Homo sapiens: one gene and its partners. The protein of the gene in region 3 interacts with the protein of the main gene of each other region in a pairwise test. Each region holds a gene or a part of one and is shown on either strand. Other genes may lie near its edges.

Region 1 (5,296 bases), on a different chromosome or scaffold from region 3:
AACCACTGGCAGGACAGGCATGGTGACCCACGCTTGTAACCCCACCAATTTGGGGCACTGAGGCGGGTGGATCACCTGAGATCAGGAGTTAAAGACCAGCCTGGCCAACATGGTGAAACCTCATCTCTACTAAAAATACAAAAATTAGCCAGGCGTGGTGGAATGTGCATGTAGTCCCTGCTACTTGGCAGACTGAAGGCAGGAGAATCGCTTGGACCCAGGAGGTAAAGTTTGCAGTGAGCCGACATCATGCCACTGCACTCCAGCCTAAGCAACAGAGCAAGACTCCATTTCAAAACAAACAACCAACCAACCAACCAACACTGGCAAAAAAGAGATTACTAGAGATGTCATTCCCCTACATTAACAAATAGTACATTGTTACCATCTTTTACTTAGAACCTTAAGTAAAATGGGACCCATTAAATCTGATGACAAATTAATACTTCATTCAAAGCACAATAGTTTTAACACATTAAAAACAACTTTGTTTAATGAAAAAATTAAGTTGACACATAATCTTTAAAAAATTTTTAAATTTATTGCATTTTATTACATAAACGTACAATTGATAAAAAACAATCTCTCCTATCTCTGATGAAACAACTGATCAAATACTTTCACAAACAATGGGAAGAGTCAACATGACGGAATCTGAGACTTGAGTTACATTATTATTTGCTGTTCAGAAACTATTTTTTTATAGAAGAAAGAAGCATACCTCGAAGGTAATTATGAATCTCGAAAAAAACTACTTCTTTAACATGTATATGGTGTTAGCTTTGGATCTCTTTTACACTCAACCCTCTGATTTAGTGTAATGTATGAAGTTTCAGTGCCTTCATTCTTTCTACTGTGACCCCTCAGATGCTTATATAGACTTAATTTTTGATTTAATATGTTTTCCCCATTTACTGGTTCTGCAAAAATATTTAGTACAAACTGGTGTTTTCTAAGCTGGAGGTTTTGAAAAAATGTTTTTCACATTCATTACATGTTTAGACTTTCTCTCCAATATAAATTCTCTAATGTTCAACAAAGTTTGAGCATCTTCTCAGATCTTCAAATTTTTCCTTTAATATAAAATGTGTACAATAAAATCTGTAATGGAAGTAAAGGTACAGCAATCCTCTTTAAGTTTGTATGTTTGTCTTCAGAATAACTGGTCTTTACTTTAAAGGCCTATATTTTCCAAAAGGTCTTTTTACAGTAATCACATTTATAATTTTTTTTTTGAGACAGAGTCTTGCTCTGTCACCCAGGCTGTAGTGTAGTGGCTCTATCTCAGCTCACTGCAACCTCTGCCTCCCCGGTTCAAGCAATTCTCCTACCTCTGCCTGCCAAGTAGCTGGGATTACAAGTGCACGCCACCACACCCAGCTAGTTTTTCTATTTTTAGTAGAGATGGAGTTTCACCATGTTGGCCAGGCTGGTCTTGAACTCCTGACCTCATGATCCACCGACCTTGGTCTCCCAAAGTGCTGGAATTATAGGCATGAGCCAACACACCTGACCTATAATCCCTTTATTAAGTATAAACTTTCTGATATTGAGTAAGATGTGACCTGATATTAATGGTTTTTCACATTCTTTGTACAATTTTTCTCTAGTATAAATGCTTTCCTGTACCATAAGGTGTGAGAATTTGTTAAAAGTTTTGCCACATTCTTCATATTTGTAGGAGTCTTCTTCAGTATAAACTATCTTACCTACCATAACGTGTGACTACCATTTAAAGTCCTTGCCACATTTAACACATTTCTAGAGTTTCTCACCAGTATGATTTCTCTTTTTTAGAAAAGTTTGAGGTGTGCTTAAATGCTCTGTCACATTTTTATGTAAGCAGAGTTTCTCTCCAGTATAAAATTTTTTAGTGAGTAAGCATGGAGAACCAGTTAAAGGGTTTGCCACATTTTTTTCTGCAATTGCAGGGTTTCTCTCCAATATCAATTATCTTACATTTATTCAGGTTTGAGGACTTTTTAAAGACATTACCATATTCCTTATTGTAGGGTTTCTCTTCAGTATTAATTCTCTTATGTATAATAAGGGTTCAAGACTAGTTAACAGCTTTACCACATTCTTTGCTTTTGTAGAGTTTCTCTCTAGAATGAATGATCAGATAATATGTAAGGCCTGAGATGTGCTTAAAGGTTTTGTCACTTTTTTTATGTTTCTAGGGTCTCTGTAATATAAGTTCTCTTAGGCTTTGGGAGGCTGACAAAGGTGGATCACCTGAGGTCAGGAGTTCAAGACCATCCTGGCCAACATGGTGAAACTCTATCTCTACTAAAAATACACAAATCAGCCAGTGTGGTGGCACACGCCTGTAATCCCAGCTACTCAGGAGGCTGAGGCAGGAGAATCGCTTGAACCCGGAAGGCAGAGGTTACAGTGAGCTGAGATCATGACACTGCACTCCAGCCTGGGTGACACAGGGAGACTCCAACTCAAAAAAATTTTTTTAAAATAAATTCTCTTAGGTTTATTAAGGTTTGAGGGTTGGTTAAAGGCTTTGTTACATTTTTTTACATTTATAAAATTTCTGTCCAATATGAATTCTCTTACATTCAATTAAGGTTTGGAACTGGTTAAAGGCTTGGCCACATTCTCTACATTTGTAGTGTTTTTTTCCAGTGTAAATTATTTTATGTATTATAAGGCCTGAGGGTGGACTTTGCCATATTATTCACATTTGTAGGGTTTCTCTCCAGTGTGAATTATCTTATGTTTAGCAAGACTTGAATGCCACTTAAAAGCTTGCTCACATTCTTCACATTTGTAGGGTTTCTCTCCAGTATGAATTCTCTTATGTTGCATAAGGGTTGAGGAGCAATTAAAGGCTTTGCCACATTCTTCACATGTGTAGGGTCTCTCTCCAGTATGAATTCTCTTGTGGTCAGTGAGGGTTGAGGATAAGCTAAAGGCTTTGCCACATTCTTCACATTTGTAGGGTCTCTCTCCAGTATGAATTCTCTTGTGGTCAGTGAGGGTTGAGGATAAGCTAAAGACTTTGCCACACTCTTCACATTTGTAGGGTCTCTCTCCAGTATGAATTCTCTTGTGGATAGTAAGTGCTGAGGAGCGCCTAAAGTCTTGGCCACATTCTTCACATGTGTAGGGTTTCTCTCCAGTATGAATTCTCCTATGTCTCATAAGGTTCGAGGATAAGCTAAAGGCTTGGCCACATTCTTCACAGGCATAGGGTTTCTCTCTAGTATGAATTCTCTTATGTCTAGTAAGGTTTGAGGACCAGCTAAAGGCTTTGCCACATTCCTCACACCTGCAGGGTTTCTCTCCAGTATGAATTCTCTTGTGGTCAGTGAGGGTTGAGGATACGCTAAAGGCTTTGCCACATTCTTCACATTTGTAGGGTCTCTCTCCAGTATGAATTCTCTTGTGGTTAGTAAGTGCTGAGGAGCGCCTAAAGGCTTGGCCACATTCTTCACACGTGTAGGGTTTCTCTCCAGTATGAGTTCTCTTATGTCTAGTAAGGTTTGCAGACCAGCTAAAGGCTTTGCCACATTCCTCACATCTATATGGTTTCTCTCCAGTATGAATTATTTTATGTGTAGTATGGTTTGAGGAGCAGTTAAAGGATTTGCCACATTCTTTGCATTTGTAGGACTTCTCCCTAGTATGAATTACCTGATGTTGATTTAGGTGTGAAAGCATGCAAAATGATTTGCCATATTTGTTACATTTGAAATGTTTATTTCCAGTATATCTTGTTTTATCTCTATTGGAATTTGAAAATTTACCAAAGACTTTGACATATTTATGAGTCTGAAATATTTTGTTTTGGGTAGTTGACAAACATTGGTTAACTTCACTATAACCTCCCTTGTGCACCTCATATTCACCCACACTTTTACAGCATTTTTTAAATTGTAATTTCTCATGTCCACATTTTCCATATGTTCTTGGTATTACTTTTTGGAGTGAATCTTTGATGCCCTGCTCTGGCTGAAGGTCTTGGGTGAAATGGGAACGCGTAACTGAAAGACACAAAAAGCACAAGTTACTCCACTTTCTGGACTCATATAAATATATTCTACACATGAAATATATAAAATTACACAAGGTACATTAGCAAAATGCCATATCAAAATACCACAGGCCATAATTCCTTCATAGATGTATAAATGTAACAAAATCATAGTGATCAAAATACCTTTGTTGGAAATTTATAAATAAAGTAAGTGTGTGCACCATGTGAGCATGATGTCCAGAGCCATATAGAGAGAAAAGAAAAGTCTGCTACATTTACCCAACACAGCCCTTCCTCATGCCCAGTAGAAGAACATAGTGCCTTTAATAACAGCTTTAAGTCTTCTGAGCTCAAAAGTGAATGTTACAACTGCAGAAAGACTGCAGTATGATGGGCAGAAGATAGGTGTAGAACGTAGTTACTGACCACTAAGAAGAAATATGAAGAAGTCTTTTAATTGAAAAATAAATACAAATTGCAGACAAAACACATCCTGAGAACATGTTTGTGAGAATCCCAGAATCTCTACCAAAGACAATTGGTGTCATGCTATGACAGGAAGGAGCTGCATTATAAAGATCATGAAAGGTAGTTTTATGTTAGTGTCTAAATCTCAAACAAAGATTACAATGTATATAAAACATGAGGATAACATGGTCCAATCAAAAAAATCAAAAATTTTGAAAAAGCAACTATAAAAACAAAGATGTAGATCTTGATTTTTAAAATTTAAGATAATCCATATTATGCTCAATGAGAAAAATGGAAAACCAGACACCCAAATAAAATAAGAAAAATAAGAATACCAACAAAACTTGCAATAATAAAAATAAACAAGGTGGAGGTAAAAAAGAATAACTGAAAAAATTTTAAAGTAAGAAAAAAGTATGTAAAAAATGAAGAAGCTAAACAAACAAACTAGGATATACACAAAAAGATCCGCAACACAAATTTAAGCAAAGTTTCAAAAGTCACAAACCAGAAGATAATCTTGGGAGCTGCAAGATAAAAGTGAGGTATTATTTATAAGCATAGTCCTCTGAGACAGCCAGTGAATTTGTAAACAGAAACCTTGCAGGTCAGAAAAGAACTGTGTAAAATGGTCAAAGGCTGAAAAAAATTTTCATGGTGAGAATAATAAAACCAGAAAAATGTACTACAACATAAAGAAAAATAAAACTCTTCCAGAATGAATAAATGCTGGCACATAATCATTGTATGTGCCCTAAATAAAATGCTGAAAAGAGGTCTTTCCACTTAAAATAACATGATGAAAAATATATGTAATCATATGAAAATACATAA
Region 2 (6,991 bases), on a different chromosome or scaffold from region 3:
ATACAACAAGTTACATACATAAGTTTTTCTTGTATCCAAAAATACAGATTTAAACTAACTATCTGGGGTAAGGGTATCATTTGTGGTTATAAATATTAATTTCTATATAAGGATAATTGACCTTTAACAGAATCAAACATGCCACAATGTTTAGCCTACAGGCCTAACAAAGAAAAATCTTATTAGGGCCGGGTGCAGTGACTCATGCCTGTAATCCCAGCACTTTGGGAGGCTGAGTCAGGCAGATCACGAGGCCAGGAGTTCGAGACCAGTCTGGCCAACATGGTGAAACCCCTTCTCTGCTAAAGATCACAAGGTTAGGAGTTCAAGACCAGCCTGGCCAACAGGGTTAAACCCCGTCTCTACCAAAGATACAAAAAATTAGCTGGGCATGGTGGCATGCGCCTGTAATCCCAGCTACTCGGGAGGCTGGGGCAGGAGAATCGCTTGAACCGGGGAGGCAGAGGTTGCAGTAGCCGAGATCACACCACTGCACTCCAGCCTGGGCGACAGGACGAAACTCTGTTTCAAAAGAAAAAAAAAAGAAAAATCTTATCAGATAAAGGCTTGGAAGATATTATACTAGAAGGGTACTTTTTTTTTTTGAGACGGAGTCTCACTCTGTTGCCCAGGCTGGAGTGCAGTGGCATGATCTCAGCTCACTGCAAGCTCCGCCTCCTGGGTTCACACCATTCTCCTGCCTCAGCCTCCCTAAAAAGGGTACTTTTCAAAGGAAAAAAATTTCAAATTTTCCCAGTAGTTTTCTGATCCATTTCTTTTTTTTTCCTCATCTGAACTAAACTTCTTAATTCAGATAAATGAAGATTAAAGGGAAAAGACAGAAAAAGAAGGCCCAAGTTTGTTAAAGACTGAATCACTAATTTTATAAGAAATGCATTTTTGTTATTTTTACATTAGTTGAGCAAAAACTAGGCTAATAAATATTGTCTGATACTACTAGATTCCATTTAATGATAATGGTTTACAGGCACTAATATTCCCCTAACCTTCTTTTTACACTATTAATTTTCTCGGAAACTTAAAACAGAAGTAAAAATGTGTCAACTCTTGTGTATCAATCTCCAAATAATAAAGTCATATTTTAGTCTTTAAAAGAACTGATTCAAAAAGAACAAAGATCAAATAAAATTTATTTACCTCAACCAATATACCAACAAAAGGGATAGAAGCTTCTTCATATTTCACAAAGAATACACTGGGATTAGTCTTCCAGACTCCAAGCCATTTGTCTTTCAACTTTAATTTTTCTGATAGGTATTTACCCATAACTTCATCAGCATCTTCTGCCTAACAAGAGAAAAAATGGATCTACATATAAATATATGAAATTATAGATTTTAAACTAAGTGGTTTTTTTTTTTTTTACTGATTTCTATTTTAAAATGGAACCAATATAGCCTTAAATAATGAATGACCTGGAAAATTACAGATTTTAACTGAAACCGCATCTAGTGGAAAACATCACCAACAAAAAATTAAACTTAAAAGAGATCTATTCACTCGAATAATTCATAGATAAGACAGCTAGTTATTGTTTATGTCTTAATTTTCAACTTTTTATAAATATCACTGCAGTGAATATGCAGGTACACAAATTCTTCTGCTACAACTTAAAAAAATAGGTTAGAAACATGAAATATTTGCTCTATTCCGTTTTATCAGATATGTATTTTCTATAAAAGAAAGTCATGCCACCAGGCACGGTGGCTCATGCCTGTAATCCCAACACTTTGGGAGGCCGAAGCGGGCAGATTACCTGAGGTCGGGAGTTCGAGTCCAGCCTGACCAACTGGAGAAACCCCATCTGTACTAAAAAAAAATACAAAATTAGCCAGGCGTGGTGGCTCATGCCTGTAATCCCAGCTACTCGGGAGGCTGAGGCAGGAGAATTGCTTGCACCGGGAGGCGGAGGTTGTGTGAGCCGAGATTGCCCCACTGCATTCCGGCATGGGCAACAAGAATGAAACTCCGTCTCCAAAAAAAAAAAAAAAAAAAAAAAAAAAAAAAAAAAATATATATATATATATATATATATATATATATATATATATATATACACACACACACACACACACACACATTTATATATATATATACACACACATATATATCATGCCGCATTGTGGACTGCTGAGTGGGAAGTACCCTTAAAGTAATTTCTAGCATTCTAGTGTAAAAGTCAAGGCTAAGTGATCTTACTCATGTTTGGACATAAACTGTTAAATAAAGGTACCAAGATTCATGCCTGTGCAATGATAAGGCCAATATATCTTCATTTTTTAGGAGCTCTCAGAAAATTCTCTCTCAGGGCTGTCCCGTTACCTGACGAATTTTGTCGGAAACTCGAACCTTAACTCCTCTAGGGCAGGACGCGGGCACCTCTAACAAGGTGAACGCTCTATACATGTTGACTCCATTTACTTTTTTGAAACGCAAGTTTTCGTTGTGCCCTGTGGATCCCCATCCGCCTAAGAGGGAAGCCCCAGATGCCTGTCCCCAGGTTCCGACGAGCTTCCGACCGTAGTCTTCCTGTCCCGGATCCGCTCACCTTACAGTCCTGCAGCACTTCGTCGCAATACAGCGACACCTTCTCGTCCCGCCACATCCCCCTCATACGGGACACGCAGACTGGGGGCAGGGGCTGCGCCTCCTCTTCATCCTCAGGCACTGGCAGCAGGGGCTCCTCCGCCGCCGCCGCCGCCGCCTCTCCCGTGTCCTCGGCCTGAGCCGCGGGCAGGCGCTGGAGCCGCAGCCTGGCCGTCTCCCGGCCCGCTTTCCCCTTCACCGGGCGAGGGGAGGCCACCACCGACCGCACTGGGATCGCGGTGCCCTTCAGGGTGGTCGCGGCCGCCGTGTCCCCGGAGACAGCGGAGGCGGACTTCTCGCCTCGCCTGTCCGGGCTGATGGTGCGGAATGAGTCCGCGGGCACCGAGGCCTTGGAGCCCGACGCCATCTCCTCAGCAGCCCGAGGGCCGAGGCAGCCGTTGGCCACTTTTCCCGCCCTCGGCCGCTCTGGCCAATAGGCGCTCTGCGCTTCAGGCCCGCAACGAGCGGCTGCTCGAGGGCGTCCCGCCGGGTGGGGTGTTGCGGCTCTGGGAGGGATGTGAGGCGCGGCCCAGAGCTAGGGGGTGCGGGGCCTGCGGGTAGAGCGCGGGGTCCTGCGGACGCATTCAGGGTGCTGGGGGGCGCTGCTCAGAGCTAGGTGGGACAGGGCGAAGCGCCTGGGCTCAGGACAGGGGTGGGGGGGCCCGGGTCAGTGTTGGGTGCGGCTCCGTGCCGAACCCCCACCAGGTGCCGCACACACCAGAAGGTGCCAGACGAGCCCAACGCAATGGCTCTAACCCCAGCCCTCTGTCTCCCCCAGGGGAGGTTTCCTTAGGGTCCTCATACGTTTCAGGGTGATTATGAGTCACCTTCCAGGTCATCAGGACCTAAAAAAATGCTCCACCTACCACTCCACAAACAAAGCCTGAAAGAAAATTTATTTTCATACTGGGAGGTGACACTAACTGGAACCCTCTGGCTATTACTAGAGGAAACCCTAGTGACAAATCCAGCAACCTAGATTTCCCTTTTAGCCCCCACCTATTACAGGGTTCACCAAATAGGATTTCCTTTACATTTTAAATAGGACTTTCACTTTTTGCCAAGATGTGGTCATACCAAGGAGAAGTTAGTCTGTTTTCTTGTCTCTGTTGTGCTATTCAAAATTCTCACATAAAAGATTATATTATATAACTGTTAAACTGGACAACAACTTCCAGCTGGGAGTGATGTGTGCAAACTATGAACACTTTCACGATAAAAGTCTGTTCCAGATCATACATTTTGGAGAACAACAGAGACCACTCACTTCTGGTATTTTACTGTTGAATGTATATTGAGCCAATTGGAATTAACGTTTGTTCACAGTCTAGCTGTGAAATACTGCACTGAAGCTGACAGCTCCCAAGGAGAACAGCATTGGGAAAACACCTGCCTTCCTTCACACTCGTCTGGAAGAACACTATGTTAAATTCTGAGTTTATTTTGAGGAAAATATTAACATCATGTGGCTGGGCGCGGTGGCTCACGCCTGTAATCCCAGCGCTTTGGGAGGCCGAGGCGGGCGGATCACAAGGTCAGGAGATCGAGACCATCTTGGCTAACACGGTGAAACCCCGTCTCTACTAAAAATACAAAAAATTAGCCGGGCGCAGTGGCGGGCGCCTGTAGTCCCAGCTACTCGGGAGGCTGAGGCAGGAGAATGGCGTGAACCTGGGAGGCGGAGCTTGCAGTGAGCCGAGATTGCGCCACTGCAATCCGGCCTAGGCTAAAGAGCGGGACTCCGTCTCAAAAAAAAAAAAAAAAAAAAAATTAACATCATGTTACTGTAGTTTAGGGAATAATTACAACATGCATCATGTTTCAATTCTATTCTTACTTTATTCCTTTCGTTGAGTCCTGGACTTTGTTTATAACAATACTAACTGCATATTTCACTCACACACACACACACAAATGTTTTACTCTAGTGTTTCTTCAAAAGTTTGTTTTTGATAAATTATGGGTTTTTTAATTCTTAGGTTCTGAATAATAAAGACCACCTGTCCTGGGCCAAAGTTTAAAAACAGCAACAGCTCCCTTTTCCTCCAAAAGGCAAATACTTGTTAGAAATCTGTTACATGCCACACAATGCGTAGATGCCACAGTTATAGAGGTAAAAGACCAAATCCCTGCCCTCGTAATCCTAGTGAAAGATACAGATGGGTCAGTAGATGATTGTGTTTGGTAAGGACCATGCTTTTATTTATGTAAATACACATAAATACATACATATATATATTTATATACACACAAATAATTTGTATTTATTTATGTGTGTATATATATGCGTGTGTGTGTGTGTGTGTGTGTGTATATATATACACATATATTCCACATTGTAGGAGAAAAGGACCTTTCTTCTCCAAAGAAGGGATACTTAAGCTGAGTTTTTAAAACAACTTTTTTCTTTTTTTTTGCCTCCCAAAGAAATTTAGCTTGTTTCTCCCACCTCCTGTCTCCTCCAGGATGCTTTGACAAATGGAATACCACTGTCCCTTTTTCCTACAATGACTCCCTTCTCCCAACACAGAGCTCCCAATGCCCAGGCTCAAGATCGGCTTTCAGTTCCACCCATGGCCACTGCGTTTCTTGGTCATTCTTCAAGGGGTCTTTGTGTTCTCAACCTTCTGCCGCAATCCCAAGTGGAAGCTCTGTTGGCTCGCCCTCTAGTCCTCTTCCTGCTGAGCCAGTCTTCAACTAGGAATCACACCAGAGTCACCAGGACAAGGAAAGCTAGGCCCATCTGAAGGAGATTCTGGGCAGTGTGGTCTCAGAGGGCACAGTCTTTCTGGAGTCCCGTCTCTGGTTAAAAGGTAGGTGTCCCAAGAGCCAGAAGAGGTGGGGTCTGCTGGTGTTCTCAATGTCACCTATGATCAGGAGCTTTGCCAGTTCACTGGGGAAAGACCACACATGGTTGTTATAGGAGCCAAAACATCGGTATGTCCCTCTGTGGGTTGTGGTCACAGGACCAATGGGGAACTCCGCCTGGACATTCCCATATCTGCACTGTGTGCGGCTGGATCTTCCCTCCTGTTACCACCAGATCCAGAGTCACTGGGCTCCGACCAGAGCTCCCCAGCCAGATAGAAGCAGCTGTATAGCCCTGCTGTGCGGAAGGTCATGAGTAGGATGTGGAATTCAACTTTGTTAATCCATTCAGGGGGTTTTGGTCTCTCCATGGCAGAAAGGCTTCCTTCAAAGTACAGCTGGTATTCAACAGCCTCAGAATCTCCCCAGTGACAGATGGTCACCGGCTTTTCATTTGGATTCATGAACTGGGTTCAGCCCAGATGATGGGTTTTGGGAGAGTCTGCTGCTGAGCACTGATCCTCTGGCTCAGACACAGCCAGTGGCAGAGCAGGGCAGGGAGTGCAGAAGGCATCACTCAGATTCTGCCAGTCGAGTGCCAAGCAGTGGGGTGGGGACTGAGCCCAGCAGGCCAGGAGATGCACAGTATGTGGTAGGTGAGGCCCAGCGCCCATCACCACGGGGCAGCTTTCACCTTGACTTTTTTCACAAGAAGGTTCACAGCTCCTCTCCACCTCTGACCATGAGTCTACAGAAAGGCCATGGTCCCTATGACACATCTGACCACAGCTGTGGTCTAGCCAGCTCCTCTGATAATTGTCTGCTCAGCCTGAAATGCATTTCTGGGTCAACTTCTCAATTCTGCAATGTGGAAGTCATGCCCAGGGCATGAGTCAGTATTCAGACCCATGATACCCCCTGAGAATCATATAAAAATATAGGGAATTTCACAATGAGATACCATTACCATCTCACACCAGTCAGAATGGCTATTACTAAAAAGTCAGAAATTCACAGACGCTGGTGAGATTGTGGAGCAAAGAGGAAGGTTTACACACTGTTGGTGGGAGTGTAAATTAGTTCAGCCACTGTGGAAAGCAGTTTGGAGATTTTTCAAAGAACTACAAATAGAATTACCATTCAGCCCAGCAATCCCATTCCTGGGTATATATCCAAAGGAAAATAAATAATTCTACCAAAAAGACACATGCACTTGTATGTCCATTGGAGCACTTCACAATAGCAAAGATATGGAATCAACCCAGGTGCCCAACAGTAGTGGATTGGATTAAGAAAATGTAGTACATATACACCATGGAATACTATACAGCTGTGAAAAGGCACAAGATTTTTGCAGTAACATGGATGCAGGTGGAAGGCTTTATCCTAAGCAAATTAACACAGAAGCAGAAAACCATGTTCTCACTTATAAGTGGGAGCTAAACACTGGGTACATGTGAACACAAAGAAGGGAACAACAGTAACTGGGGACTCCAAAAAGGAGGAGAGAAGGAGGGGGGCAAGACTTGAAAAACTATGTATTTGGTACTATGCTCACTAGTTGGGTGACTGGATC
Region 3 (6,346 bases):
GGTCTTGAACTCCTGACCTCAAGCATTCCTCCCACCTCAGCCTCCCAAAGTGGTGGGATTACAGATGTGAGCCACCGCACCCAACCAAGGGGCTGATTTTTACGTTGCTTTTTAAATCAAGGCCACTTTTTTTTTTTTTTTTTTTTTTTGAGATGGAGTCTCGCTCTGTCACCCAGGCTGAAGTGCAGTGGTGCAATCTCGGCTCACTGCAAGCTCTGCCTCCCGGGTTCATGCCATTCTCCTGCCTCAGCCTCCCAAGTAGCTGGAACTACAGGTGCCTGCCACCATGCCCAGCTAATTTTTTTTTTTGTATTTTTAGTGGGGACGGAGTTTCACCATGTTAGCCAGGATGGTCTCGATCTCCTGACCTCATGATCCGCCCGTCTCAGCCTCCCAAAGTGCTGGGATTACAGGCGCTGAGCCACTGTGCCCAGCCGACACTTTCTTAGATTATTAGAGACATGCTCCCAAGCAAATGTCAGTCAGAGACACACATTTCACACGGGGCAGAATAATTTCAAAGTTTGGCTATTTTAATTCAATTTCATTGTTCAAGGTAGTATGGGTATATTAAGTGGTTCATTTCCCTCCTGAAGAAAACAACTTCTGTCTGATGTGATTTTGTGAAATTCAAACATGACTCTTTGACTGTTTAAAAAAAAATTTTTTTTTCTTTACGTATCTTGGTAAGATTTTTTTTTTTTCTGGGACATATTTTTTGTAAACCTCCAAGTAGTTTGGAAACACTTGCCTATTTGCTCATTCCTCTGGGCACAGCCTTTCAGAGCATTTATCCCACCTGTACTGAAAAATCTGTTTTCCCAGGTGGTGGTGGGGCCACTGGATAGAAGGGATCACAGAGAAATGAGGAGTGAGCGAGCTTTGTAAACTACTTCTAATTCTCTTCATTAGTATGCTATGATCCACCCCAGCTTCTGCAAGGTCAGACATGCAAGACAAGTACTTGGCCAAAACAGCAGGATTCTAACTAGTGTAAAAATAGATTTTAAATAAAATAGAATCTCTATAGGAAAGAGAATTAGGTTATGCTTTACATTCCCACTCTTAAGATATCTGTATATATAAGTCCAAGAGAGACTCAAAGAGTTGGTCTGCCCTAAGTAAAAATTAAGAATGTCTGAGTACATTCATTTTGCAACATTACACGTAAAGTTTTTTGGGAAATGCTGCAGCACATCCCACAAAAACAGATGGTGATTAGTGATACAGTTGATGTGCTAACAAGTAACATGTAAGACATTTAGGTCAAAGGGGATGAGGCCTAATTACAGGCTAAAAACCTATTCTGAAATGTGATCATTTGAAAACCTGTGGCTAATTATAAAGCAAAAACTAAAACCTGTTGTTTAACAATACATCTTACTAACCTATCCCTCTACCTCTTCAAGAAACTAAATTCCAACACAGGTCTTATTTTAAGTTTGCTCAATTACTGCAGGTTATAAATTATTTGACATTTATGGTTCCAGAGAGAGTACACAGCCCCTCTGTTGGCCCACACAAGCGTTATATGACTGTTCTAAAGGGGGCTCTGTTGAAATTCTAATTTTAGGATTTAGAAACAGCTTTTGGTTATATCTTGAAAGCGTAATTGAAAATCTGCCCAAGCTCCCTCTAGCTGCAACCTGAACATGCAGCCCAATATTTTGTAAACATTTAGAAAATACTAAACCCAACAAAATACACAATTAGCTAGTCAGAGGCCTCACTCTACATTTTCACACGGATGAGAAATCTCCCCACTCAGTCTTGCTAGATGCTAGGATACCCACTCTGAGATTTGAGTTTGGGAACAGCCATTAAGCCTCCTCCTTAATTGCGGTTCATAATGATGTACGAAGTCACCAAAAATAAACAGTGGAGCTGCCACCATTTTTCCTACACTGAGTCTACCCAATGTGCCCCGGGTTGTTTGTTTTTCCTGGCTGGCCCCAGAGCAAGAAGAGATGACTGCTGGTAAAGAGCCAGGGCCTGGTTTACTACCAGGCCTCTTTTCAGATAACATTCAAGCAATTCTTCCACTCCCCAGAGGAAGGGGGAGATGATAATGATATGACACTATTGCTAGGGAGTTTTCATAACTCCTTAATAGCCAATGGAAACCTCTCTTTAAAGCAGCTGTTATGCCCTCAGAGAGGTTTGGTGCTTTAGTGCTAGATAACCTTACCTTTGAGGTTACAAGAAATAACTTAACATCTTAAACCTACCCCAGAACTGAATGTCAAATACGCCAACTCCATAAATACAATGGAAAAATGCACAGCAGAGTTGGGGCTTCTACCAAGCAGGAAGGCAAAATGGTCATTAGAATGTGAGGTTAGTGAACTCTTAAGACCTTTTCGAACGCAGCGCCTTTCTATCAGCTCTCCAGTCAGCACCCTTTACATTCACTACATCACACACTAGCAAATGAAAGAGCCAAACAACTGTGGCTTGATCCTCACTTGTACTTATTAGGGCCCACCCTCACATTTAGCTGAAGGTCCCAGCACACTCTCACAGTGTCAGGGAGAACAGTCTCAGGGATGTCTGTTGCTCTGAAGGTCACTTGCCCCTCTTGCTGCGGCCCTTCCTGGAGGGCAACTTCCCACTGCCCCCCGAAGAGGCAGGGCTCGAGGCCGAGGCCATGGCGATGTTGATCTGTCCCTCCTGGATTTCCTGCCGGGTCTCGGCAGGCAGATGGTTGATCTTCTGCTGTGTCTCCAGGTAGAACATGACGTCACGCAGCTGCTCCTGGATCTCGGTGATCTGCAGATCTTTTTGGTCACAGGTCTCCTTCAGCACCCTCTCCTCCTCTTTTAGCTTGTTCTGCAGGAGGACTTGGTTGGCTCGCAAACACTTGTTCATTTCCTGCTCCTCTTTGAGCTCGTTGGTGAGTTTGGCCACTTTTGTGTTTAGCTGAGTGCACCTTTTGAAAAACAAAGGAAGACAAAAGCACATTTTTCATTTGCTGACACAGTCCCCTTTCTGCTCTGGGATTGAACAGAGAAACCATGACCTCAGAATCCCTTTAGGACAGACCCCTTTCTCCCATCGTGAGGGAGAATGGTTTTCTGCCATCGCAATCAGCTATGCAAAGCAAGAATTTTGCTCTACTTAACACAAGTGTATTTTTTTTTGAGACGGAGTTTCGCTCTTGTTGCCCAGGCTGGAATGCAATGGCACGATCTCAGCTCACTGCAACCTCCACCTCCTGGGTTCAAGCGATTCTCCTGCCTCAGCCTCCCAAGTAGCTGGGATTACAGGCACCTGCCACTATGCCTGGCTAATTTTTGTATTTTGAGTAGATATTGGGGTTCGGCATGTTGGCCAGGCTGGTCTTGAACTCCCAACCTCAGGTGATCCACCTGTCTCGGCCTTCCAAAGTACTGGGATTACAGGCATGAGGCACTGCGCCAGTCCACAAGTGTATTATTTATTTATTTATTTTTTGAGATGGAGTCTCACTCTGTTGCCCAGGCTGGAATGCAGTGGCGTGATCTTGGCTCACTGCAACCTCTGCCGCTTGGGTTCAAGCGATTCTCCTGCCTCAGCCTCCTAAGTAGCTGGGATTACAGGTGCCTGCCACTGTGCCCAGCTAATTTTTGCATTTTTAGTAGCGACGGGGTTTCACCATCTTGGCCAGGCTGGTCTGGAACTCCTGACCTTGTGATCCACCCACCTTGGCCTCCCAAAGTGCTGGGATTACAGGTGTGAGCCACCGCGTCCAGCCCACAAATGTACTTTTAAGACACTTTTTTTTAAGCATCAGAAAGTTTTCAGTAGCAGAAACTATTCTGTGACTGACGGTAAAAATTCTACTGCTTCTTTGTTTTGCAGTCAGTGGTTAAATAGGTGCCTTCGAGATGATAGCTGTGATAAGGAAGTTATGAGGAAAAGTGGCATTCTTGGAGAGTCAAGTACTCTGACTTCATTGCATTTGCTGAAGGGGAAAAAAAGGGCACTTATTCTAACCAAAGGGCTTTAGACTTGGGAGTGCCCTATTCTTGATGTCCAGTCTTACTCATAAGTAAAGAATTGCAAATGAAACCACCATTTGAGGCCAGGTGCATTGGCTCATGCTTGGAATCCCAGCACTCTGGGAGGCTGAGGCGAGAGGATCGCTTCAGTAAATGAAACAGGAAATGAGTTCGAGACCAGCCTGGGCAACAAAGTAAGACCCTGTCTCTACACAAAATCAAAAAACTTAGCCAGGTGCAGTGGCGTGCACCTGTGGTCCCAGATTTACAGGAGGCTGAAGCTGGAGGATTGCTTGATCCCAGCAGGTCAAGGCTGCAGTGAGCTGTGTTCATGCTACTGCACTCCAGCCTGAGTGACAGAACGAGATCTTGTCTCAAACAAACAACCCATACCATCTGAGACCCAGCAGAGTGGCTCATGTCTGTAATCCCAGCACTATGGGAGGCAAAAGTGAGAGGGTCACTTTGAAATCAGCCCGGTCAACATAGCGAGACACCGTCTATACAAAAGAAAAATTAAAAAACTAGCTGGGTGTGGTGATGTGCACTTGTAGACCCAGCTACTTGGGAGGCTGAGGCAGAGGACTGCTTGAGCCCAGGAATTTGAGCCTGCAGTGGGCTGTGATTGCATCACTGCACTCCAGCCTGTCTGACAGAGTAAGACCCTGTCTCAAAAAAACAACAACAAAAACCAAAAACACTCACACACAAAAACCACGAACAAAAAAACCCCACTATTTGAGATACTATTTTTATGCATCAGAACACCCAAGAGCTGAGACATGAGAAAAGAGGCACTTACACACTAGCACTGGAGCATGAACTGGTATAAACTCTTTCGAAGACAACTTGGCAATATCTATAAAAACAAAAAATTTGGGCCAGGCACGGTGGCTCACGCCTGTTATCCCAGCACTTTGGGAGGCCGAGGAGGGTGGATCACGAGATCAGGAGTTCAACATCAGCCTGGCCAACATGGTGAAGCTCCGTTTCTACTAAAAATACAAAAATTAGCCGGGTGTGGTAGCGTGTGCCTGTAATCCCAGCTACTCGGGAGGGTGAGGCAGGAGAACTGCTTGAACCCTAGAGGCGGAGGCTGCAGTGAGTCGAGATCGTGCCACTGCACTCCAGCCTGTGTGACAGAGCAAGATTCCGTCTCAAAAATAAATAAATAAAAACAAAAAATTTGCATGCCCTTTGACACAGCTATTTTACTTCTAGGAATTTATACCATAGAATAGATATACTCAGGATTAGGTAAAAAGAGACATGGAGGAAGATGCTCATTACAGTATTGCTTATAGTAGTGTGAGATTTGACACAACTTGACACAATCAATAGGAACCTGGTCAAAATCATTATGCAGGCCAGGTGCAGGGCTCATGCCTATAATCCTAGCATTTTTGGAGGCCAAGACAGGATCAAGGAGGAGGATCACTTGAGGCTAAGAGTTCAAAACCAGCCTGGGCAATATGGCAAGACCCCGTCTCTACAAAAAAATTTTCAATTGGGCAGACATGGTAGCACACACCTGTAGTCCTAGCTACTCAGGAAGCTCAGACTAGGAGGACCACTTGAGCCCAGTAGCTGGAGGTTGCAGTGAACTATGATTACGCCACTGTACTCTGGCCTAGGCAACACAGCAAGACCTTATTTCAACAACAACCACCACAACAGAAATCATTATAGTACATCCATACAATTAAACAGCATGCAGATGTTACAAAGATCAGGATAGATTTAGATGTGCTAGTATGAAAAAAAATCCAAAAACATATTTTATCAAAAAGAATACCTAGATTCTATTTTTGCAGAGAAAAGATTATGCATGTGAGATATTTATGTGGGCAGAGCTAAACATCTAGAAGAAGAAATATTCACTGGTACTGGTTAATAATGGTTAACACTAGATAGCAGGATCTAGAGGGTGAAAAAGAACTTCCAGTTTTTGCAGGGTGTGGTGGCCCATGCCTGTAATGGTAAAACAGTCTCTGCAAAAAATTAGCCAGAGGCCAAGCACGGTGGCTCACGCCTGTAAAACCAGCACTTTAGCAGGCGGATCACCTGAGGTCGGGAGTTTGAGACCAGACTGACCAACATGGAGAAACCCTGTTTCTACTAAAAATACAAAATTAGCCACGCATGGTGGTGCATGCCTGTAATTCCAGCTACTTGGGAGGCTGAGGCAGGAGAATTGCTTGAACCCCGGAGGCAGATGTTGCAGTGAGCCGAGATCACACCATTGCAGCCTGGGCAACAAGAGCGAAACTCCGTCTCAAAAAAAAAAAGAAAAAAAGAAAAAAAAATTAGCCAGGGGTGGTGGTGCACAGCTGTAGTCCAGTTACTTGGGAGGCTGAGGTGGGAGG
Region 4 (7,035 bases), on a different chromosome or scaffold from region 3:
TTCATTAATAGAAAACGAATAATGATTATAAGTATACACTCCACTGAAATAAGAGTTTATTCAATTTCTGGCTTGAAATAGGTTGAAATGTCTTAAAGTTTTTATATTATATAGATTGTTACCCACATATTTTGAACATACATACAGCATAGGATAGTCTAGCTATATACCCATTTCCTCAAAATTAGAACCAAAAATAACTACTAAAGTAGGAAATGTATTGTTACTGGGGAGTAGCAAGAAATACTCCAAATACTTCAAATGTGAAAAAGAGAAAAACGGAACTCTTTCGGGGGGAATGGAGTGTCCATTACTTTTTACCTTCTCCAGTTCTAGAATCTGTTGCTTCTGCTCTTCATCCAGACTTTGGGTTTTGCTTCGCAAAAAAGCTCTTTCCTCTTCAAGTTGAGATAATCTCTCATTGACTCTCGATTTTTCTGATTCTAAATCTTTAATTGTAACTTCCTGGGTCATTTGAGTTGCTTGAAGCATTCCAATATGACCTATCCCCCAAAAAGAAAATCCCTTCAATTTAAAAATCAGTTGTACTATGAGATAAACAGTTTACATTTAATAACACAACTGTACTTTATACTTAAGTAAAATAAATGGTCTACATGTACAAATTTTCCTTTTGTTTCTTCACTACATAAAATGGAAATATTTACATGAAAATACTTCTTAGCGCACTAGAATAATTTAAATTAAAACGTCATTTTCACATGATTAATGTTGCTTCCTGCACCTCGTACCGTTTTACTGGTTTTTTTTGTTTTTGTTTTTGTTTTTTTAAGATTGCAAGCTAAACAGGTTGAAGTAGGCGCAACTCCTCAGTAGGCTTCATAAGAAAGTCTCCTGGGAATAAAAGAAGGACGGAGAGGATGCACTGACTGACACTGTGGCGCCAAAATGAGTGATTCGTTCTTTTCTAATTTATTTTCAAATTCTAACATAAAAAGGAAGAAGTTTGTATGTAGGAAACAAAGATGGCAGATAGCAGTTTGGTTGAAATTGAATTTGTTTCAGGCAAGAGGCCAGATAAAGACCTAAAGTGGAGCTTGTAGTTCCAGCTACTTGGGAGGTTGAGATGGGAGGATTGTTTGAGCCCAGGAGTTCAAGGTTGCAGTGAGCTATGACTGCACCTGTAACAGCCACTGCACTATGTCCTGCAACATAGCGAGACCTCATCTCCAAATAAAAACAACCAACCAACCAACAACTAAGGTGATGTAAGACACAGATAAAGACAGCAAGGTTATGAAAGAATCTCTTAAATGACAGCAAAAAGCAGGGAAGGTGGAGAAAAATGAGGAGAGACAGAGAGATGAAAAGTGAGTGAAGAAAAAGGTCTCATAGAAAGGATAGTTTAAGGCAGAGGTTCTCAAAGTACCCAGGACCAGCATCACCAGCATCACCTGGGAACTCTGGTTAGAAATGTGACCCACCCCAGACCTAAAAGTGAATCAGAAACTCTGAGGGTGGGGCCCAGCATCTGTAGTTTCACAAACCCTTCAGGTCACTCCAATGTGCACTAAAGGCTATTAAAAACAACTATTTTAGAGGAAGGAAAATCTGAGATTCACTGATAAGCCAATCAAAATCAAATGAGATCCTCAAAGAACCAGCTCAAACAGCCTTCCTGGGCACACTAAACACTTAGACAAAATATAACTTCAGAACTGACACAAGTCACCCACTTCCTCCAGTAATGGTTGTGAAAAAGCATACCAGCCACTTGAGAAATAGGCAAGTCAGCTTTAGTATGTAAAAATGAACCTTAGTAACAAGCCCTAAGAAATGAACTGCTGTAATTTACAAACTTCAACTAATTTGAGCACTTTAAAATGTGTATTTTTTCAGTGAGACCTCATCTTTAAAAAAGTTAGCCCGTGGCATACCTAGAGTCCCAGCTACTGGGAAGGCTAAGGCAAGAGGATTACTTAAGCCCAGGAGTTTTAGGCTGCAGTGAGCTATGATCAGGCCACTGCACTCAAGCCTGAGCAACAGAACAAGATCCCATCTCTAAAAACTAAATAAATGCTGGCATGGTGGCTCACACCTGAAATCCCAGCACTTTGGGAGGCCAAGGTGGGAGAACTGCTAGAGCCCAGGAGTTTGAGGTCACCCTAGGCAACATGGCAAGACCCCGTCTTTACAAAAAATTAAAAAATTAGCCAGCCAAGGTGGTGCATGCCTGTGGTCCCAGCTACTCAGGAAGCTGAAGTGGGAGGATCACTTGAGCCCAGGAAGTCCAGGCTACAGTGAGTTGTGTTCATGCCACTGCACTCCAGTCTAGGTGACAGAACAAGACCTTGTCTCAAAAAATAAAATAAAATAAAATGTATATTTTTAAAGGACAACACCTCTTGAAAAGTGTGCTTCATTTTTCGTTCTTTCTTTTTTTTTTTTTTTTTTTTTTTTTGATACAGCCTTGCTCTGTTGCTCAGGCTGAAGTGCACTGGCGCAATCTCGGCTCACTGCAACCTCTGCCACCAGGTTCAAGTAATTCTCATGCCTCAGCCTCCTTAGTAGCTGGAATTACAAGTGTGTACCACCATGCCCAGCTAATTTTTGTTATTTTTAGTAGAGATGTGGTTTCACCTCGTTGGTCAGGCTGGTCTCAAACCTCTGGCCACAAGTGATCTGCCCACTTTGGCCTCCCAAAGTGCTGAGATTATAGGTGTAAGCCACCATGCCCAGCCCGTTTTTCTTTTAGTGACTACTTTATTGGTATTTTACCTGCTATTGGTATTTTTCCTCACAAAGGAAAACTCTCAAGTTTTCTATAAAAATATATTCCTAAAAATAAAAAATATTTGTGTATCTTATAAGTAATTAGTAACATATTGAGTCCTTTAACTTATTTACAGTCTAAATAGTTTTAAAATGTTAGAAGAAAAAATAAATGCTACCTTAAATTAACATTTAAGTGTTGGGGCCGAGCGTGGTGGCTCATGCCTGTAATCCCAGCACTTTGGGAGGCTGAGGCAGGGAGACTGCCTGAGCTCAGGAGTTCGAGACCAGCCTGGGCAACACGGTGAAACTCCATCTCTACTAAAAATACAAAAAAATTAGCCAAGCATGGTGGCGGGCACCTGTAGTCCCAGCTACTCAGGAAGCTGAGGCAGGAGAATTGCTTGAACCCAGGAGGCAGAGGTTGCAATGAGCCGAGATTGAGCCACTGCACTCCCGTCTGGGCGACAGAGCAAGACTCTGTCTCCAAAAAAATAAATAAATAAAGTGTTGATTTTAGCTAAGCATTACATCAAAAACTGTGGTCACACATACTAGCTTTGAGGACAAGATCTGAAGCTTGCTGTTGTAAACGTTCTCTGGCAGCTGCTAGCTCACTTTCCACTTCTTTGTGCTTGCTTAATAGGGCCATTTCTCCCTCCTTGGCATCATCAAGCTGTTTTTGAAGAACCTAAGAAAGATTAAATAGCCATTGTTAAAATGCAGGAATAATACTAAGCTAAATAATTCATTTAAATTATAAGGGTCAGCTTTCTCTTATTCAGAAGTCATACTAAACTATATACCAATTTTTAAATCTGTAAGTATTAGTGATTTATAACTTGATGTTTTCATAAACATGACCCAATCAGGAAAGGCTATTCCACACTTTCTAATCCATTCTAATGTTGCACAGATATTAAAAACATGGCTATGAAATTTTCTAAGCCAACAAAACAAAACTTGTGGACTTCCGGCATTTTTTTCCCCCAGACTTGTGCAATACCCCTATTAAATTCAGGTTTAGAAAGCAAGCAATTTCTTGATCAAATTCTAAATATCAGCTAGCAGGCAAACCATTATTAGTGAAAGGAAAAGAAAAAAATGTATTTAAACTTTAAGCCCAATATTAAAATCCTTTTGTAAATAATTAGCAATATTGTCCGCCCCCCCCCCCAGGAACAGCGTATTACCTCGCTAAGCTCACTCACCCAGGCTGGTTTCTAACACCTGGCCTGAAGCGATCCTCCTGCCTGGGCCCCCCAAAGTGCTGGGATTACAGGTGTGTACCACTGTGCCTAGCCAATAATTAGACAAGGTTTTAAGCTTGTCTTTTTGGGCCCCTAATATCTGAAAGTCTGAAATAACAACTACAGGGTAATACAAATTATCCTGTCATTGATTTTTCTCACAAAGGAAAAGCAGGAAAAGTTAAAAAAAAAAAAAAAAAAAAGTCTAAGTGGTGTGAAGCCACTGATTCTAAGTGGGCCAGACTGCTCTCCAGCCTACAAAACAAATATTTTTAAAAGAAAAAAAATCCATGTGTTGAATATAATATTCTTTACTTACCTGAACATTGTTCTCTGCTATGGCAAGTGCCGTCTGAAGCTTTTGGCATTTGTCAAGAAGACTTCCAGCTTCATCCTGTACCATCTGTAACTCTGTCTTTAATTTTCCTATAGTTTTTCGTAAAATTGCTTCTTGTCCCTGAAATTCTTTTCTAAGATCAGCTTCCTTTTCTTTGCTGGCCTGTAGGCTTTCTGCTGTAAAAAGCTGTGACCTTTTCAAAGTATCAAGCTCACGTTCATAAAAGGACTGAGCTTTATTCAACTTGCCTTCATAATCCTCAATTAGTTTCTTCCGTTCAAGTCTTAGCTCCTCAAGCATTTTGTTTAGGGACTCCACCTCCATTCTGTGTAGTTCCTCTGCCTTTTCCTGGCCTTTATTTACTGAGGCACTGTGATCCTGCTGTGACTTCAATAGCTCTTGTATCTCCCGTCTGTGAGCAGCTTGCAAGTCTTCCAATGCCAATCGTTTGTCTTTTTCAAACTGTACTTGAAGTTGTCCAAAGCTCCGTAATTTTTCTTCAAATTTCCTTCTAATCTCTTCGACTTCTCTAGACATGGTCACTATGCGTTGGACATGCTGGGCTTCTGCACAAAGTTGCATGTCCTCAACTCTGTGCTTATAAGCTTCAAATTCTGTCAAAGCCTGCTGCTTCATTTTTATGTGATCTTCTAATGATGATTCTAAAACTTGAATCTTTCTTCTAAGGTCTAGCTCCTCTGTTACTTTGCTTTTATACTGCAATATTTTTTCTCTTGTTTCAGCAAGAATTTGTTGAATTTCTTCTTCATGAGCATCTTTGAGGGCTTGAATTGCAGATTCATGCTCATCATTTTTAGTGTTTAAAGCATATATTACCTGCATGGTTTTGAATAAGAAGGGAGAAGGATTGTGAATCCATATTATTTTCTAACTTGAAGTCAATTCTTTCATTTGGATTGATATTTTTCTATGCACATAATATTGGCTACAGCTAATGTTAAATATGGAATCTTGATGCAATTGTTTTTTTACTCATAGATTGATTTGCTTAGCAAATTTCTATCTTAGCACAGTCTTAAGATTTGTATTTAAAGACTTTTTAGTTATAATTTTAAAACATTCAAATTTAAGACTATTTTTTACTACAAATGAAACAGCAAAGAGGAAATGGACAAAGGAGGCAATTGGCCTAAGAGAAAGGAGTTCTCATATGTCCCAATCTAGCTTACCGGGGACTGTGAAGGGGTGTTCAGGAGAAAAAGTCTCATAGTAAGACTCTGCCCTATATTGGTGTCCTAGAGATACGAGAGGCTTCACATGAAGAGAAGCCCTAGGCCCTAAGTCTTCCCAAAAGCCTTTTATCTTTGTAATGGCCTGTTTAAATATTTCAAATTTTAAACTTTCCTTTCCCAATTCCCCTATAGTTTGCTTCTAAAGCTGATCCTCTTCTCTCTTCAAGTTTCTAGTGATCTCTTTATAAAATCCAATTTGTACTTTTTCTCTTCATATTTCAAATGCTGTAGTTTTACTCTTTGGCTAATTTTCTCTCTGCCTCCAAGCAACCCAATTCCTTAAGCCAGAGTTTTGAGTACAGGTCTTTATTTTCATTTTAGTTCCTAGGTTTTAATGATTTCACTGAGATGTCCCAACCTTAATTTCAAATGACAACAAATTCCCTGCACAGTAACACTCTCCTTCCTTCCCTCTGTTCCTCGGATGCCATCCATCATGCCACTGTGGTCACACGGTGAAATTTTCATGACTGTTATTTAAGGCTTTGAGATGAGCCCACTTTCTTCCCCCGGAAGCGAAAAGAAGTAAACACTGTACAATCAAAAAATCCAGCAGCTAAAAATCAGTGTCTGGAGATTTGCTCATTTTAATGTGATATTACTCTGGCTTTAGAAATGAATTCCAGCATCAGATACCAGAAACTGCAGTTATGATGGAAAACTGCTGCCATTTTTTGTAGAGAAATTATTCATGCAGCCTGAGGTAACTGTGGCAGACTGGCTGGCTCTCCAAATACCACAGTAACTCCAGATCCCACTCGCTAAAGATAGGCTGTCACTGTCTGGGACAGCAGTTGTGCTTGCAAAAGAAACAAGAAGGCTGCCTCAACACAGGGGCATCACTTTCTCCACATAGGGCTTTGTCTTCCAGATCCAGTGGCCCTGTCCATATACTCGCTTAGTCTGCCATCATACCAAAGGTAAAAAGATTGAGAGATGGCAGGAACCCATCTGTCTTGCCATGCTATCCCTTTTTGCAAAGTCTACAGGAAAAAATGTGAACAGAAGTACTTATTCACATTCTGTTTTTAAAAAACCCTAATTTCAAATTCCAAATTATGTTCCCAATAAGGTAACACAGATCCCAAGCAGGACTCCTTCATTTACACATTTACTCATAAAGGTAGCTTATAAGCCAAGAAAGCTGACTGACTTCCTATTCCCATCCCCTTGGGTCATATCCGCCCACCAAGTCAAATGGCCATAAAAGACTGAAAGGATCTGTGATATAACAAGTGTACCAAAAATATAATTCTAAGCCCCCAACCGATTGAACGGACCCTCCTCTTAGCCAAGTGGACCCCAAAGAAACCTGAAAAAATAGTTTAGGCCATGACTGAAAGGGAGGGGTCAGACATGCCTCATTATGGATTGGACATGCTGGGCTTTTCTGCACTCTATACTTCGGGATTTAGACACAACTGACCGACGTTAACATTAAAACAGAGATCATAAGACTGAC

What was found.
Region 1: the proteins of BRAP (region 3) and ZNF479 interact in a two-hybrid assay, tested with the Homo sapiens proteins (one study listed by BioGRID and IntAct).
Region 2: the proteins of BRAP (region 3) and SHCBP1L interact in a two-hybrid assay, tested with the Homo sapiens proteins (one study listed by BioGRID and IntAct).
Region 4: the proteins of BRAP (region 3) and FAM184A interact in a two-hybrid assay, tested with the Homo sapiens proteins (one study listed by BioGRID and IntAct).

Annotation. Positions count from the first base shown.
Region 1 is NC_000007.14:57,117,155-57,122,450, forward strand, and holds the end of ZNF479 (zinc finger protein 479), read right to left. Parts: intron 3,999-5,296; coding exon 2,686-3,998; 3' UTR 522-2,685; downstream 1-521. UniProt on the Homo sapiens protein: May be involved in transcriptional regulation.
Region 2 is NC_000001.11:182,950,160-182,957,150, forward strand, and holds the start of SHCBP1L (testicular spindle-associated protein SHCBP1L), read right to left. Parts: upstream 3,008-6,991; 5' UTR 2,975-3,007; coding exon 2,570-2,974; intron 1,831-2,569; exon of another isoform or gene 1,826-1,830; coding exon of another isoform or gene 1,778-1,825; intron 1,309-1,777; coding exon 1,159-1,308; intron 1-1,158. UniProt on the Homo sapiens protein: Testis-specific spindle-associated factor that plays a role in spermatogenesis. In association with HSPA2, participates in the maintenance of spindle integrity during meiosis in male germ cells.
Region 3 is NC_000012.12:111,641,634-111,647,979, forward strand, and holds the end of BRAP (BRCA1-associated protein), read right to left. Parts: intron 2,930-6,346; coding exon 2,566-2,929; 3' UTR 513-2,565; downstream 1-512. UniProt on the Homo sapiens protein: Negatively regulates MAP kinase activation by limiting the formation of Raf/MEK complexes probably by inactivation of the KSR1 scaffold protein.
Region 4 is NC_000006.12:119,019,657-119,026,691, forward strand, and holds part of FAM184A (protein FAM184A), read right to left. Parts: intron 5,158-7,035; coding exon 4,303-5,157; intron 3,425-4,302; coding exon 3,289-3,424; intron 504-3,288; coding exon 322-503; intron 1-321.